Homo sapiens: one gene and its partner. The protein of the gene in region 1 purifies or fractionates together with the protein of each later gene. This does not show direct contact. Each region holds a gene or a part of one and is shown in the gene's direction. Other genes may lie near its edges. The genes, in order: WIPF1 and HCLS1.

What was found.
Region 2: the proteins of WIPF1 (region 1) and HCLS1 purify together in Homo sapiens (pull-down; one study listed by IntAct). This does not show direct contact.

The regions. Positions count from the first base shown.
Region 1 is NC_000002.12:174,562,985-174,566,810, reverse strand, and holds part of WIPF1 (WAS/WASL-interacting protein family member 1), read left to right. Parts: intron 1-3,826. UniProt on the Homo sapiens protein: Plays a role in the reorganization of the actin cytoskeleton. Contributes with NCK1 and GRB2 in the recruitment and activation of WASL.
Region 2 is NC_000003.12:121,647,199-121,651,024, reverse strand, and holds part of HCLS1 (hematopoietic lineage cell-specific protein), read left to right. Parts: intron 1-3,576; coding exon 3,577-3,706; intron 3,707-3,826. UniProt on the Homo sapiens protein: Substrate of the antigen receptor-coupled tyrosine kinase. Plays a role in antigen receptor signaling for both clonal expansion and deletion in lymphoid cells. May also be involved in the regulation of gene expression.

The DNA.
Region 1 (3,826 bases):
TTCTTTGGACGTCTTCCTCTGTTTTCATCTTCCTGAGACAGCACAAGTAGAGCCATCTTCTATTCCTTCTAGTTTTGAAATTGGCATAATGTCTGATTAATTATAACAAAAACTCCCTTTAACTGCCTTGATCTTTTAAACGTATTGTAATCATAGCTTTACAGAGCATTACATGAAAATGTAAATATATCCATAATCTCTCCACATAATAGATATTTTCATTTTACCAGATTCTCATCCAATTTTTTATCCATATAATTCTGTTTTTTTATGTAGTTATAATGACGATGTACAGTTTTTTGGCGGGGTTTACATAACATTGCTTAGTAAATAGTGCCCATGTTATCACATGGTTTTTATTTCAGCATATAGTAATTTACCATTACCATGGACATTTAAATTATTTCTGTTGTTCTGCTAATGTAGGTAATGCTACCATAAAGAACTAAATTGCTTTTCCTCCATTGAAGAAGAATGTCAACAAGAAAGGAAAAATAGACAAACTGGAATTTTATAACAGTAAATGTATAGGAAGTGTTACAGCTCTTTGAGAATTTGTCTAGCAGGCTTTCCAGGGTTTTGCTGGAAAGCCTCTGAAATTTACTTTTAAAAAAACACAATAGCTGGGCATGGTGGCTCACGCCTGTAATCCCAGCACTTTGGGAGGCTGAGGTGGGCGGATCACGAGGTCAGGAGTTCGAGACCAGCCTGACCAACATGGTGAAACCCCATCTCTACTAAAAATATAAAAATACAAAAATTAGCTGGGCATGGTGGTGTGTGCCTGTAATCCCAGCTACTCAGGAGGCTGAGGCAGGAGAATCACTAGAACCCGGGATGCAGAGGTTGCACTGAGCTGAGATTGCGCCATTGCACTCCAGCCTGGGCGACAGAGCGAGACTTCATCTCAAAAAAAATAAAAATAAAAAAAAATGTATACAACGAAGAAAGAATTAGCATGAAATATGCATATGTCATCCATGAGGCTGAGGTTCGTGGCAGCCTTAGCCTCAGAGCCAAATTCCCAAACCAGAAATAGAGAAAACTTAAGCAAACAAGTCAAATATGTCACAACACCCCTAGCGATGGCCCCACTCCCTAACAGAGCACCTTACATGTACTCAAAGCCTACTGATTCTTTCCTAACACAGTTTAAAGTAATTTTTGGTTGGTTGGTTCCAAACCTTATAGGAGATTAATAACAGCTAAAGTTAAGACTGGTGAGAAGCAAAATCACTGACATGGGAGAGAAGTGACAGATGGCAGTCCCAGGTCAGAGGAGGAGACAGGAACATGGCTGTGCTGTGTGTCACAGCGCAGGACAACACCAGATGTTTCTGTTGGGTTGAATTTCTATTGGGTTAAATGGAATTAAATTAATTGAGTCAAACTGTGCTTTGTGCCTCTGTAGAAAAATTTAAAGAGTTAGAAAATATAGGAAAATTTCCATGGACAAATGCTAGAAGAAAACAGAATACTACTGCTTAAAAGGAAAACTTTAATTCCTGAAAAGATTTGTTTCTGTGGAAGACTGCATTCATAGACAATACCTAATGAAGAAGTATAGCTATAATAAAATTATTATACAAGAGTTGATGATTGAAATTTTTAGTGAAGGCCAGGCACGGTGGCTCACGCCTGTAATCCCAGCACTTTGGGAGGCTGAGGTGGGCAGATCACCTGAGGTCAGGAGTTCGAGACTAGCCTGACCAACATGGAGAAAACCTGTCTCTACTAAAAATACAAAATTAGCCGGGCATAGGGGCGCATGCGTGTAATCCCAGCTACTCAGGAGGCTGAGGCAGGAGAATTGCTTGAACTCAGGAGGTGGAGGTTGCGGTGAGCAGAAGTCGCCATTGCACTTGAGCCTGGGCAACGAGAGCGAAACTCCATCTCAAAAAAAAAAAAAAAGTGTTAGTGAAAAGTAAGTTTTCACATGGGACAGATATCTTTGAATGGTGTGTGTGTGTGTGTGTGTGTGTGTGTGTGTGTGTGCACCAGAAGAAGGGCTTCTGTTTGATAAGAGTACAGCCCTTCTTCCTTCTTGGGCACCAATAAATGAATTGACTTTAAGGAGTTGTTCATATAGACTCCAAATATTTTTCCTAACTTATTATTTGCTTCTTATTCTAAATATTATTTCTATTTTTAAATTGGTAATAGACCATCTTCCCTGTACCCTCTAGATCTTTAATGGAATAGCTAAGCATATATCTTCTCCCATCCTCCTTTAAGACTTGAGTAGGCAATGTAAGGACTAGAACTGTGTCCTGCTCACTATTGCACCTTCCTTGAGGGGCACAGAGCCTGAAACATAAAGGGCATTTTCAAGTATTTCTTTTTAAAAATTTTCTTATAGAGACAGGATATCTCTATGTCACCCAGGCTGGTCTTGAGCTTCTGGCCTCAAGTAGTCCCCTGCCTTAACCTCCCAAAGCACTGGATTATAGGCATGAGCTACCATGCCTCGCCTAAAAGTAGTTTTTAAATTGGTGAATTAATTTCCACAGTCTACCAAAATTTTTTTGTAGATTTGCCTTAAATATTTCCAGCATTAGGCATGTTTAATATTTTATAATGATAATGGATCATCTAACAAAAATAAATAAGGCACCGTCGAGTACCAAGTTTTCCTCTGCTCTGCAGCAGCCTCAGCCTCCAAGCCCACAGCCTGAGAGCGCACCCAGACAGCCCTGAGCAGTACCGAATGCACTTGGAGTGCCCTCTAATTACAGCTTTGGACAAGGCCAGCCCTCATTCTACTAACCACTTGTGGCGGGTCAGTTGATGGTCAAGGCCCCATGATAGGTGTCTGGTTTACATCCAGATGAGTCTTTTCTCAGATGCCTGCCCAAGAAAATATTTGGTTGGGATGGTGAGAGGAAGAGGTGCTTCTTTCAGTGTTTTCTCCTAACTCCCTTCCTTGCTCAGAAATTTGGTTCTTTCTCAGAAATCCCTAAGTGGACCAGTAGGGTCCCTATCAAGATGCCTACTTGAGGAATCTGCCAGTTCCAGCCCACTGAGTCTCAGAGCAGTGGTTAGAGCAGACCTACCTGATTGACACATGCCCCAGTTAGACCTGTTCACAACATCTGAGCACCTGACCTCATGCCAAACACCTGTTAAATCCTCAACAAATGTTTGTGTAGTAAATGAATTTTTTTTATGTGAATGGGTTTTAAGCCTAGTTACAGTGGACTGATAGCCCATGAATAGCTTGGTTTTGGTTTTTATTTTGTTTTTGAGACAGGGTCTCACTCTGTCACCCAGGCTGGAGTGCAGTGGCGCAATCTTGGCTCATTGCAGCCTCGACCTCTCAGGTTCAGGTGATCCTCCCACCACAGCCTCCCAGGTAGCTGGGACTATGGGACAGGCGCACACCAACATGCCCGGCTAATTTTTGTGGAGACAGGGTTTTGCTATGTTGCCCAGACTGGTCTCAAACTCCTGAGCTCAAGCCATCATCCCTCCTCAACCTCTCAAAGTGCTGGGGTTACAGGCGTGAGCCACTGCAACTGGGCCGTGAATAACTTTTAAAAGAACACATCGACAGAGTACTTGAAAAGGTGTTCAACATCACTAACTTTTATGAAACTGCAAATAAAACTATAGTGAGATACAACTTTACACCCATTAGAATGGCTACTGTCAGAAAAGCTTTCTAATTTTTAATTAGAAGATACCTAAATGCCCAACAAAAGGGAATTGACTAGGTAGACTGTAGTGTAGTCATATTTTGGAATGCAGACTGTCATTAATAATCTTTGCAAAGAGTAATGCCTTCGAAAGATGTTCAAACTGACTATATGATCTTATTTCTGGAAGA
Region 2 (3,826 bases), on another chromosome or scaffold:
TAGCTGGGACTCAGGCGCCCACCACCAAGCCCAGCTAATTTTTGTATTTTTGGTAGAGACGGGGTTTCACCATAGTGGCTAGGCTGGTCTTGAGCTCCTGACCTTGTGATCCACCCGCCTTGACCTCCCAAAGTGCTGAGATTACAGGCGTGAGCCACCACACCTGGCCACTTTTTCATTTTATTAATGGCATCTTTTTAAGAGCAAAAGATCTTAATCCTGATGATGTCTAATTTATTGAAAAAAAATTTATGGGGCTAATGCTTTATGTGTCTAAGAAATATTTACCTACCCCAAAGTTGTGAAGACTTTCTTTGATGTTTTGTCCTAAAGGACTGACAGTTTTAGCTTTTACATTTAAGTCTATGACCCATTTCAAGTAGACTTTTCTGTGCAGTGTGAGGTCAAGATTGAGGTTCATTTTTCTCCATGTGATTATTTAGTTGTTCAACAATATTAAAAGAGTATTCTGTTCCCATTGACTTACCTGGCATCTTTGACCACATACATGTGGGTCTATTTCTGGACTCTATTCTGTTCTGTTGATCTATTTTCTACCCTGACAGCATACCATACTGCACTGATTATTGTAGCTTTATAAGTCAAGAAATTATGTAGTCCTCAACTTTGCTCTCCTTAAAAAAAAAAAAAGAAACAAAAGATTTTACTATTCCAGGACTTTACATTTTCACATAAATTTTATAATTCACTAGTCAATTCCTACAAGAATGCCTGTTCAGATTTTGATTGGGATTGCATTGAATCTATAGATCATTTTAGGGAGAACTGACATCTTAATGATATTGAGTTTTCCAATCCATGAACATGGGATATCTCTCCATTTATTTAGATCTTCTTTAATATTTTCAGAAATATTTTTTAGTGTTTAGGTCTTGCACATACTTTGTTAAGTTTATCCTAAAATGTTTCATGTTATTTCATGTATTTATATTTAACTTCCAGTTTCCAAATGTTTATGGCCAGTATGTAAAAATACAATTGATTTTGATATAATGACCTTGTATCCTGTGACCTAGCCAAATGCACAATGCTTTAGTAGCTTTTTTTGTGTGAATTCTTTAGGATTTTCTACATACATGATCAGGTCATCTGTGAATAAAAACCTTATATTCTGAGTCACTCACATTTGTGCTTTTAGTTTTGTAATAAAAAACAAACACAGATTGAGGAATGAGTCATCTTTGAGGTGCTACATTTTGCTTGGTTCACATAAACTGCATTGCTTTATCAATACAAAGTCTTTTAAAACTTAAATTGGATATCTGAGAGTTAATATGTCAAAAGTTTCTTAGGCACAACACAGCATATTGAATTGGAATTTTTTGTTTTCCTCTCTATCTCTTCTAGCTGTCCTCTATCTCCATACATAAAACATTTTTGTGTCCTCAGAGCCTAACAGTACCTCACACTTAAAAGTTGTTTAGTTAATAGTTATAAAATGAAGGAATGATGTGATTAAGACCTGTTTAGGCCAGGCGTGGTGGCTCACGCCTGTAATCCCAGCACTTTGGGAGGCCAAGGCAAGAGGATCACTTGAGGTCAGGAGTTTGAGACCAGCCTGGCCAACATGGTGAAACCCTGTCTCTACTAAAAATACAAAATCTAGCGGGGCATGACATGCATGCCTGTAATCCCAGCTACTCTGGAGGCTGAGGCAAGAGAATCACTTGAACCCGGGAGGCGGAGATTACAGTGAGCTGAGATCATACCACTGCACTCCAGCCTGGGCGACAGAGCAAGATTCTGTCTCAATAATAATAATAATAATAAAGACCTGTTTAGAATGACTTCCACTATAACCTAAAGAAGTCTGTTTTCTTTGGGCCTCAACAATTTCATTCAAATTATATCATTGGTATGATCCCCTGACTAGTTTTTCTGTTATCCTTTAGATGAATATTTCTGAGTATCATTTTCTAATCCCTTTTAAAAACTTGTTTTAACTATAATATAGTTATAACCCATTTAACAATTATTATATTCATTAAAAAATTGCAGATTTTTTCCATTTGAAAGTAAATTTTGGCCCCATTTTCTTGATCTTTCATCTGAATACTTCAGTTGGAAGATATTGGGCAGGCATTTACATGTCCTTGGTACTAGTAGCTTATGACACAGTGTTGGTGTTGAACTGACAACACAAGATCTCTGCTTTCAACGCTGCCAGAGAGTTTAGAGGAGGCATGGGAACAGGGGGTTCTTCCAGCACTTGGCTTAATTTCATCTGGTTCATAGCCAGCTTTCTAAAATTAACTGCGGCTAAAGCTGAGAAGGCTTTTTAAAAAGACCTTTGGTAGAATTATCCACTAAAGGCCACCAGATGGATCTATTCTTCCTTAAAAGAAGACAATTTCTGCTGTGAGACAGCCATTCTACGTATAACCAATGTGTCTGGTTGTCCTGCGCTGGTAAAGTCCCAGCTCACCATCTAACATCACTATCTTAATACCCTAAACCCTCATTGCTTGCTGCAGAAAGTCAAATTTCTTATTTAGGGTTCTCTTGCCCAAATGTTTCCAAGAATCCCCGGATCCTTATATGTGTCCAAATAACAGATCTGATTGTCACGTGGGGCTGAGCTATCACTTCATATCCTCAAGCCAAAGAGGTTGGCCAAGATGGCTTTCTGCCCTCTTAATTGTTGCAGTCACCTTCATGGTAAAGATGGAAGTGGGTGTGAAGTAAGAAAGATAATGCCTTTTTTGGTGGTACTTTCTCTTAGGGATAGAGGTGTCCCTTCAAATCAAGATAATTTGAGGCTTAAAGTGTTATAGCAATAACTGTGAGTGGATTTTCTTAGTTAGTTTTCATTAGTCCTTAGTTTTCTCAGGTATTATCAGCCTGGGGGGAAGGGGCAGAAGATCTTAATTCATGACCAAAAAGCATAAAAAATACCACTAATGTTTACATAAATTTCCCCAGTTCTGTGTTTTTATAAGCATTATATTTAATGACTTCCTAGTACACTAGTGAAAGGTAGTATTTCAATTTATTTAACTATTATCCAACCATTGGTCATATAGATTGTTTCTTAGTTATTGCTATTATATACGATGCTTCAATGAGTATCATTTAGACATTAAGGACATTAAGCTTTGCCATATTTAAAATCATTTCCCTGGTGTAGACTGCTAAAACTAGAATGTGTAGGTCCAATGGTATGTGAATATTTTTCTGCTTTTTGAGACACATCCTCTAATTGATAGAAAGCAGATCCATTCAGAAAAGAAAATAACTTTCCAGTTATCAGAATATAGGTACCATTGTCCTCTAATATTTAAGAACATGAAAAATGGGACTAAAGATCAGAAGGTTATTTTAGTGAGCAAATAACAGACTAGAGGAAATATTATTGGCCTATGGAGAGTTTAAATCAGGCTATGGTATGCAGGCCAGACTGATCTTTTACTTCCAGACCCATCACTAGTATATTTTGGGGGCCCAGGTTATTACTGAAAGTAAACAGGACAGACTTCAAGGCTTCCATTTTTCTGGGAAGATGGGTTTCTTGATCTCCCTAGGATAGATGAGCCTTGGTCATGTGGTTTCTTCCAGCATCCACCAGCTGAGGAACAAAGTATCAGAGGAGCATGATGTTCTCAGGAAGAAAGAGATGGAGTCAGGGCCCAAAGCATCCCATGGCTATGGAGGTCGGTTTGGAGTAGAAAGAGACCGAATGGACAAGGTAAGTTGAAAGGGAAAGATTTGCTTTAAAAAAATACAAGCCGGGTGCGGTGGCTCACGCCTGTAATCCCAGCACTTTGGAAGGCCAAGGTGGGTGGATCATGAGGTTAGGAGATCGAGA